Linked DNA regions of Homo sapiens. The protein of the gene in region 1 interacts with the protein of each later gene in a pairwise test. Each region holds a gene or a part of one and is shown on either strand. Other genes may lie near its edges.

Region 1 (3,117 bases):
AAATAACTTTCGCTGAATATTTGGTCTATAATACTGTTACATTTCCTCTATTATTTTAACATCTTTTGAAAAATTCAAATTTTTACTGTTCATTCACATATCATTTTAAATTGAGGTTTAGTTCACATACGATGAATGCACAGCTCGTAGGTATACAGTTTAACGACTTATGACAGTGGTATAACCACAAGACCAGCAACATTTGAATCTTTCCATCACCCTAGACAGTTTGCCCTGTGTCCCATTCCAGTTAAATTACCTTTCCTACACACACAAAGGCAACTACTGTTCTGATTTTTGACACCAGAGCTTAGACCAACTATTATTTAAAGTCATGTAAATGCAAATATGTAGTATACAATCTTCTGTGGCTGGATTTTTTTTCACTCAACATTTTTTTTGGAGATTCCTTCATTTTGTTGCATGTATCAGTTGTCTTATTTTGAATTGCTGAGCGGAATTCCCTTGTATGGATATACCATAATTTGTTCACTTATTTTCCTGTTGGTGGATATTTGGATTATTTCTGGAATTTGGCTCTTAAGAATAAAGCTGCTAGGAGCATTCTTGCACAAGGCATTTTGAGAACATATTTTCATTTTTCTTGAGGATATACATAGGAGTAGGTTTGTTGGGCCATAGAAAAGGCATATATTTAATTTTATAAGAAACAGTTTCCAAAGTGTTTTTCCAATTTACTCTCCCACCAATAATATCTGAAAATTCCAGTTGCTCCACATCTGCAGCAACTTCACCAAAAAATACTGTCACGTTTAAAATTTTGTTCAGTCATTTTAATGTCAGATATTTATATAGCAATTCAATATTTTACTTTATGATATTATCCATATTTATCCCATTCACATCATTTCTCTCAAACAGTAACTACAAGGAGATTAAGGAATTATGCTAGAATTTTTTATTTATTTATTTATTTATTTTTTTAGACAAGGTCTCACTCTGTCACTCAGGTTAGAGTGCAGTGGTGCAATCTCCGCTCACAGCAACCTCTGCCTCCCAGGCTAAAGCGATCCTCCCACTTCAGACTCCCAAGTAGCTGGGAACACAAGTGCGTGCCACCATGACCAGCTAATTTTTTGTATTTTTGGTGGAGACAGGGTTTCACCATGTTGCTCATGATGGTCTTGAACTCCTGAGCTCAGGTGATCAATCCACTCACCTCGGCCTCCCAAAATGCTGAGATTACAGGTGTGAGCCACCATGCCCTAGAATTTTTTTATGTGTCTTCTGGGGCATGTGCATATTTAATAAACGTTCTTATCATCATTAAAACAAACTGATTATATACTTAGAATTTTCATAGTTACTAAGTGTATAAATCATATGTGTCAGGTAAATATTTTGGGGAGACACTTTATAATCTCATCATTATGCTTGAATTGTTTCATTTCAAGCCAACAATAAACTATTCAAATTCACTCAAAATTGGGGGTAAATTAACTTAGAAATTTCTATAAAGAGACGGGGAAATTTCATATAATGAGATAGGAAATATTAAGTTTAAATGCCTCAAAAGAATGTTGCATATTCCTATAGTACTTCTATAGTCTGCCTGAACTCATCATCAACTTTCTCCCTTCCAGATGATGCCACCAGTCCCCATTTCTCAACACGTCATGAAGGGTCCTTCCAAGTTCCTGTCCTGTGTGCTGTAATGAATGTGGTCTTCATCACCATTTTAATCATAGCTCTCATTGCCTTATCAGGTGGGTCTACACTTCATCAATTCTTTCAAAGCCTCCTAGCTGTAAGCATTCATGCCCAGCTGAAATCAATATTAGTTTAGTCTAGTTAATCAGAAACTAGCTAATTCAGAATCATCCCATGTACCATATATGGCCAATTTCCTAATCAATACTAAACATAATTCCACAATCCTTGAATAATTAATGTAATACTTTTATAAGTATTAAAAGTATCTATGATTTATATATTACTGTAGAATAAAATTGCATTTGAAAAGATGTTTACATCTAGAATGAAGGGAGCTGATTTGAATTCTGAATAAATACCTATTTAGCTAGAAAAAAATGTGAACTTCACATTCATTGATTATGGAAAAAAATCGTATCTAAAGCCATAGATTAATCAGGAAGTGGCCAGTCTTTTGTGTTTTATCTCAAAGGACACAGAATGGTAGTTCTGAATAATTAAGATTATATTTAAAAGTTCCCAGAGAGTCAGTAGTGATTTGGTATTCAATACCTCCAGCTGTACCAAGATATATTTGTATCTTTTACAAATGGGAATGTTTACCATTGTTTTGAGATATTCTGAGTCATATGTCTTTCTGTATTTTGAATTGGTTCCCTAAAAGTTAGTTACTCTCTCCATCTTTCCAGCCTAGTGCTATAAATACTGCATCTTCAAATTCTTCCGCCTCTGCATTCAGATTCAAAACCTTATTTGAAATGTATAATGCACTTTATCCTTTCTAGTCCAAAGAAATATCTAGTCCAAATTTTCAGAATTGTTCTATATTTCTGTCATTTTCTGACATTATGACCAAAAGTACATCCCCTCATCCTCATATCTCCATCCAATGATGATTAGGCACAATGGAAGATCAGATATGGTCCTGAGAACTTTCTTTCTTCATACCCTTTTCAGAATTCTACTTTTTAGCTTTTATCCTTTACTTTATCACCACCTAGCACAACATAGCATCCTAAGGCTAGTTTTGCATGCTGTGGGTATTTGGTTTCTTTTGTTACTAAAACAAAGCATTTTTCTGTTCACAGTGGGCCAATACAATTGTCCAGGCCAATACACATTCTCAATGCCATCAGACAGCCATGTTTCTTCATGCTCTGAGGACTGGGTTGGCTACCAGAGGAAATGCTACTTTATTTCTACTGTGAAGAGGAGCTGGACTTCAGCCCAAAATGCTTGTTCTGAACATGGTGCTACTCTTGCTGTCATTGATTCTGAAAAGGACATGGTAAGAATAAAAAAAAGATAAAATACTACTATTTTAATTCATATGGCTAATCAGTGCTTTCCTTCCGTTTCTAAGTGGAGAAAACAAACAAACAAACAAACATTGTACCTATTTCAGATGTAGGAAAATGTCATCCCAGAGAACCATATGATCAG
Region 2 (3,659 bases), on another chromosome or scaffold:
CTATAAAGAAACTGATAGAGCATAATGGAGATAATCAGAGCTTTGAACAGATGATCCATTGGTCCCAGGCACCTATACAATCTGAAATCCAAATCTTATGGTTTTGTAAAGAAAAGTTCTAAGCAGCCCATGAACCATTCTGGATTAAGCTGATCCAGGCAGATGTATTAAAGCAGACACTTAGGGTGGGGTATCTGTGAGTGATTATGGACAATACGGAAGAGTAGAGAAGGGTTGGTTCTATAAGTTATAAGGCCAAGTCTAAATCCTGATGCAGACTCTCAACTGCTGCAATTCTGGGATAGCAACTTCACCTCTCAGCCTCAGTTTCTCCTACTCTCAAAGCAGGATAATCCCACCTGCCTCAATAGACTGCTTTTAGGATCACATGCAATAATGTAAATAACAATTGCAAAATGGCTGGCAATTTATAAAGTGCTTTCCTGTGCATTACTGGTGTTATTACCTTGGCGAAATTTTAGCCTACTGACCTCTAGCAGTTTCTATTCTTACACTGTAAATCTTATGGGATGGGCTCCAACACAACCATTGCAGTATGTGTTCTCCCATATGTGGGTGATTATATAAAAAGAAACACATCTTATCTCTCCAAACACTGAGGTTTTTCATCCATTCATCTAAGCACTCAACAAACAATAATTATATTTTAACATCCTGACTGAATGTAGTTATTAGGCATTAAAGATGTGAAGACAGTGAGATGAAGAGCCTCGTCTCTGATTAAAGAATGTTGTTACACGAGAGCTAAGAATCAGCTCAACTTGCACAACCTGCAGTATTAAGAAAGATGACCTTTGTAAAGCCAATTTTACAGTTGTGAAAGAACAAAAAATTTCAAGGTGGTATCTGAACATACTAAAAACATACATAATAGCTTTACGTGTAAAAATGAACTGTTGGGAATGAAGTATTATTCATTAACCCCTATAGTAGTATAATTTTTCTCAATCAATCATAAACTGTGCATTAGTTACAAATAATCTTAGGTAGGTGTTGTAAACATCAGAATACACTTCAAAAAGGAAATTTCAAATATATTAACATCTTTATTAATATTTGAAAAAACAAACAAAAGAAAGCCCAGTTATACAGTTGAAAAGCACAGAGCTTGAAACTTTTCTACTTTGGAAGGTATTTTGTCATCAATACAGGGTGTTAAAGCAATTATCAAACTCATTTTGACATAAGTCAGAGATCATTTAAATTGTTTGTAGGTTTGACATAAAATTCTTGAAAGCAAATCTGGGAAATGATGGCACTAGCAGGACTTTGTAGAATATAAAAAGGGCATTTTCTCAGAAAACAAACTATTTTACGCCTGAATAGCGTTACCTGGCATTGACTGGGGTCATAGGGTCATAGAATTCTTGAACGATTCTATTGCCATACCATGCTGTGGCAACTAAAATAGCCAGACCTATAGAAATTCAAAACAAAAGACTGTTAATCACCATGGAACACTGAGCCTAAATACACAACCTGTTAAACCAAAACATATTTTGCAAGAATTAAATCTCATCAATAGTGTTGACATTTTTATTTTGGTATTAGGGAGATTAGAAGTCCAGATATGATTTATTCCAAGTATCTATTAAAATATAAAAAAATACTAGGTTGGCATTAGACAAAATTTATACTTTTTTATGATATCTTGGCACAAATAATTCTTTTTTGGAAACAATTAGGCAGGTGTATGTTGTACAAAATCTCTTTTAAATATGCTGTTATACATTAGGATACTAAACTACATTTGATAAAACTATTGTCATTATTAGTACAGGTAGAATTACTTGCAAAAGGGGAAGATGAAAACTCTTCTATGTTCTTGATCAAACTCAAAATTTACATTTCTGCAGAGTCAAAAGGAATGCAAGCAGCTAGATAGAGTGAGATCAGGACATGTCTCAGAATGGACCAGAATACCTGCATTACTACTGCCCCATTGGCCAAGGGAATACCTGATATAGGTATAGGTTGGCCTGAGATTTGTTGAGGGTGCCACATCAGATCAATTTATGCAACCCAATCTCAATTTCCCATGGCATTTTATATTCAATGATAGCAGAGAAATCATTTAGTCAAAATCATTCACTTAATCATTTATAAGATGTATAAAATACTTCATTTTTTTATCAAAAAAGTTAAATAACTTTTTTGTAGTAATTCTAAGTATTCATCAATATAGATAGATTAGATGTTTCTATGCTACTGTCTCTCCCCAGCCAAAAACATGGTCCAATGTAATTGCCTCTAGACATGACAGAAAACACTATTGCTTTTGGCTTCTCAAATAGACCATGCGAATGGTCTTGAACTTGTGATGCTTACTCCTAAGAGAAGTCCCTGAAACTGGAATAGGAGTGATGCAGTCACATGTGGGAGTTACAAGAAGGCAAGCGAAGGAAGAATGCAATGCATTTCATCCTCATCGTCTTCCAAGCACTTCATACACTTCATGCCACGATGGCCACAAAGATTACTATTCGCAGCCTTTGATATAAGAGTAAATTATTGGGAATAAGACACTATCCATGCCTTTTCAGAGAGGAGTCAATTTGTATTTGGGTAAACTGAGAGACTGGTCATTTTAAACTAACCACATCTTTAGCAAAGCCACAGATACTCTTCCTCAATTACTGGTTAAACTGACATATTATACTGAAGCAAAAGCCCCTACAAGTCTTCTGTCAAAAAGAAAATAAGAAAATAAAGTCTATTCTAGTTTTTTTCTATTAGTAGATTTGTATCATTAATTATATCTGTTATTTTTTTAAAATAATATACTATAATATACTACATATATAATATATGCATCTAATACCTAATATAGAGAACATATAGTAGTCTATTATTATAGCTGTATAATTTATATGGAGATTATCAACATATATAACACAGTGTATAGATATAAAGATATATATATACACACAGAGAGATTGCATATGTATGTACATATACACACGTAAGTATACATACACTATAATTTTTTAAATAGGCATTATTATAAAGCTTTGAAATAATGCTGTCCATGTTTTCTGACTTTGATTTTCTCAAATGACACATAATGTAACTTATCAATCAACACTTGAATTAAAAAACAGATATTTCTTTTCTTTTCTTTTTTCTTTTTTTTTTAGACAGTCTTCTGTTGCTTAGGCTGGAGTGCAGTGGTGCGATCTCGGCTCCCGAGTTGAGGTGATTCTCATGCCTCAGCCTCTGGAGTATATGGGATTACAGGCGTGCACCACCACACCCAGCTAATTTTTGTGTTTTCAGTAGAGATGGGGTTTCACCATGTTGGCCAGGCTGGTCTTGAACTCACGACCTCAGGTGATCCGCCCTCCTCAGCCTCCAAAAGTGCTGGGATTACAGGCGTGAACCACCACACCTGGCCTAAAAAACACGTATTTATTTTAAATGGAAAATATAATATTATTTTATCAAAAAAATTTAAAGGTATTTCTGTATTTTTTTTTTCCTAACTGCTTTAAACTGACCATTCCAACAGGCCACCTCTACTCCAGTTGGCCTTTCTTTTCATTGATCTACAGGCACATCCTGTTTATTCTCGAATTAGATCTGCCCAGCTGGAATGCTATCCTTATTTTTCTCCAATAATCCCAATCCTTCCATCCCTC
Region 3 (3,659 bases), on another chromosome or scaffold:
TTTCCTGCTCCAGGCATGAAGGCAAGGTTTGACCTCACTCAAAAGTTAGTGAACTGAAAACAGACCAAGGGCCTAGGCAGCCTCCACACACACCCTGCCAGCCACGGAGCCGCCCGCTGTGGACACAGCCCCAGGTGCCCGGACTCACCACGGCAGCAATGTTTTCATGGTAGTGCCTGTAGGTGAAGCCGTCTTGCATCGTGATGGTGGCCAGGGCCTCCAGGACTGAGGCGCTGAGGTAAAAGAGGGCAGCGGTGCAGTGGTAGGCTGCGTCCTATGGGGCAGACGGGGTGTCAGAGGGATGGGGAGAGAGAGACGGGGCCCAGATGCAGAGCTGAGGTCCCCTCCACCCCCGCCCCTTGCCTCTCCCCCCACTTCCTTTGAATCCCACCCCTCCCAACCTTGTCACGGAGGTCCCATGCCTGCCCTGCTGTGCTGAGTCTCACTTCACTGCTGTGGGGCCAGAGTGAGCACTTTGCTGGGGATGGGACACTGGTCTCCCCTGAGGAAGGGTCAAGGGAGAGGTGGAGGAAGGGCCAGCAGCTTGGGGTGTCCCAGGGAAAAGCTGGTCCTGGATCTGAGAAGTGTCGTGCATGGCCACAGTCCAGGTTGGGTGTGGCCTCGCTGACCAGTGCAGGGTGAGGGAGGACCATGCTGTTTCTTTCGTTTTGTTTTGTTTTGTTTTGTTTTGTTTCATTGCTTATTTTTGGCCCCTGGTATATTTAAAAGCAAAAAAGGGCTGGGCGTGGTGGCTCATGACTGTAATCCTAGAGCTTTGGGAGATTGGTGCAGGAGGATCTCTTGAGGCCAGGACTTGAGACCAGCCTGGGAAACATAGTTAGATCCCCATTTCTACACAAAACAATACATCTTAGCTGGGTGTGGTGGCACATGCCTGTAGTCCCAGCTACTCAGGAGGCTGTGGCAGGACGATCACTTGAGCCTGGGAGGTTGAGGCTGCAGTGAGATGAGATTGCGCCACTGCACTCCAGCCTGGGTGACAGAATGAGACCCCCAACTCAAAATAAAGTAATAAATGAAAGCAAAAAGGTACTAAAACAGGGTTTTGTGTAGTTGTGATTTGGAAGTGATTTCAAAAGTCTAAGTAGCAGAGCTTTTGAGAGTGACAGCCTTGGCCAAATGGCCCCACCACCCCTACAGCAGGTAACAGGCAAGTGTCCTACATGTAAAAGTTACCTTTTCATGGGTCTCAAAGCAGAATTTATACAGAATAATGACCAAAGGCCGCTTCTGTTTCCCAGTGCTCTCTGGCAGCCCTGCTTGGAAGGCAGTGGCTGAGGAGCTGGACAGTAAGCATGGCCTGACCCTCAGAGCCAGGGCCAATTTCTGGAGCCCAACACCTTGGTCGGCCTCTGGGGCCCTGCTGCCTTGAGGTGAAAACAGCCCTTGCAGGTGATGGGAGGGGCAGGCAGGCACCTGGCGGGTACAGGTGGTGTGGGGGCTGGGCAGCTGGTTATCCATGGAAAGGCAGTCATGCAGGAGAACACAGAACAGGTCCAGTGAGGGTTGGCAGCGGCGACCTTGCCTCTGCCCCTGCCTCTCCTGATTCTGCTGCCAGGAGCCCTGGGCAGGCTCAGCCTTGGAACATGGTGGGGTGACATCTACGGAGAAGTCTCACCTGGCACTGGAAAAGCCCATCCTACTGGGCCAGGGACCAGTACTTCCTGCGCCCCCCTACAACCAGCAGCCACCCTGGGCTGGACTCACCAAGGTGACCCAGGAAGTCTCTCCACCGTGGGCTCCAATTATGTACAGGATGATCAAGGTGGTGGTGGCCACGAAGCAGAACACAGACACGAACATCACCCAGCCCTGGACCAGGGGCCAGGGCACCAGGGAGGAGGCCACCAGGATCCACACCAGGCCCCCGAAGATCTGCGGGGGAGGAGGAGGGGTGAGTTTTGGCCTAGAGGAGAGCCCCAGCCCAGGAAGGGCCCCCGACCAGCGGTCACATGGGGTGACTGGAGTGCAAAAACACAGGAAGCAGGCAAAGAGAACAGGGCAGGCATTTTCCTCTGCAAAAATGCATCTTTAGTCCCCCCAGGGCCCTGTGCTGGATCTCAATCCCAATCCCCGGCACGCTTGCCCTGATTAACTTTTTAAAACTTTTTTTTCTTGAGACAGAGTCTTGCTCTGTCACCCAGGCGTGAGTACAGTGGCGTGTGGCTCACTGCAACCTCTGCCTCCTGGGTTCAAGTGATTCTCATGCCTCAGCTTCCTGAGTAGCTGGGATTACAGGTGCATGCCACCATGCCCAGCTAATTTTTCTATTTTTGGTAGAGACGGGGTTTCACCATGTTGGCCAGGCTGGTCTTGAACTCCTGACCTCAGGTGATCTGCCCTCCTCAGCCTCCCAAAGGGTTGGGATTACAGGCGTGAGCCACTGCACCTGGCCTGAGTAACTTTTTAAATATGGGTTTAATTTTTTTATTTAACAAACACTTATATCAGACCTACATTCCAGGCACTATCCTAAGCACTTTACAAATAATAACTCAGTGATTCTCACAGTAACCCTCTGAGCAATGCTGACCTGTTTGCCAGATGAGGAAACTGAGGTAGGTGGAAGTTAAGTAATTCATCATTCTGAGAAAGGATTTATGCCATTTGGTATTGTCATGAGAAGAGCTGCTATTTCTTCTGATATTCTAGCCCTCCTACTTGCTTTGATATTAAAATGTCCTTTCCTTTATGCAATGGTAGTGACCAGCAGATCTTTTTGGTCTTTATTTGGCAAAACAAATTAACCACACTGTCAGTAGTCCCCTGCCCTGCCCTTCCTTTCTTTCTCTCTCTCTCTTTCCTTCATTTCTTCTTCCCTCCCTCCCTCTCCTTCCTTCCTTCTTTTTCTTTCTTTCTTTCTTCTTTCTTTCTTTCTTTTTTCTCTTTCTTTCTTTCTCTTTCTCTCTTTCTTTCTCTCTCTTTCTCTCTCTCTCTTTCTTTTCTCTCTCTCTCTCCCTTTCTCTTTCTCTCTCTCTCTCCCTTTCTCTTTCTCTCTCTTTCTTTCTCTTGCTCATTATTTCTTTTTCTGGATTCAACTGTTTATATTCCCAAGTCCAGGAAGTGTTCTGATGATCAGATTTGGAGTTGGAATGGAGTAACCAAGGACAGCCTTGTCTCTTTGGATGGCTGAGGATGGGCATGAGGAAAGTACAGTCCCGTGGTTATCCAGAATACACCCCAGTTGATGTCGCCAGGGTCAGTGAGCCCCATACAGTCAAAGAGGAGCAGACATGGGGGCCAGTAGCACCCCTCAGTAGCCCAGCCCCGCTCCTCGCCGTGGATGGACACATACAAACCCGCTCCCCACCGCGGATGGGTACGTACAAACTCCGTTCCTCACTGTGGACAGGCGTGTACAAACCCCAGCGGGGACTTTCTGCACTTCTCTTTCCCTTCTCCTCATCTCCCCCAGCGCCACCCCCACCCAGTAAGAATCAGCTCAGCCTCATCCACATGTTCCCCACTTGGATGAGGACTGGGCTCGAAGCACTCCAGGCCTATGTGGAGATTCCTTTGCAGCCAAAAGTCTCCAAGGTACTACAGAAGTGTCTGGGGGGCTGAGGATGGGGCTGCCCTCCCAGGCCTATGTCCCCTGTGGTTTGAATTCACATAGCACCTTGACCCCCCCACCTCCC

Evidence for each region.
Region 2: the proteins of CD69 (region 1) and CLDN1 interact in binary tests that used the Homo sapiens proteins (3 or more experiments, as listed by UniProt).
Region 3: the proteins of CD69 (region 1) and MAL interact in binary tests that used the Homo sapiens proteins (3 or more experiments, as listed by UniProt).

Annotation. Positions count from the first base shown.
Region 1 is NC_000012.12:9,754,907-9,758,023, reverse strand, and holds part of CD69 (early activation antigen CD69), read left to right. Parts: intron 1-1,604; coding exon 1,605-1,727; intron 1,728-2,762; coding exon 2,763-2,962; intron 2,963-3,117. UniProt on the Homo sapiens protein: Transmembrane protein expressed mainly on T-cells resident in mucosa that plays an essential role in immune cell homeostasis.
Region 2 is NC_000003.12:190,308,816-190,312,474, forward strand, and holds part of CLDN1 (claudin-1), read right to left. Parts: intron 1,439-3,659; coding exon 1,354-1,438; intron 1-1,353.
Region 3 is NC_000002.12:95,046,196-95,049,854, reverse strand, and holds part of MAL (myelin and lymphocyte protein), read right to left. Parts: intron 3,341-3,659; exon of another isoform or gene 3,077-3,340; intron 2,580-3,076; exon of another isoform or gene 1,897-2,579; coding exon 1,729-1,896; intron 275-1,728; coding exon 149-274; intron 1-148. UniProt on the Homo sapiens protein: May be involved in vesicular trafficking from the Golgi apparatus to the cell membrane. Plays a role in the maintenance of the myelin sheath, and in axon-glia and glia-glia interactions.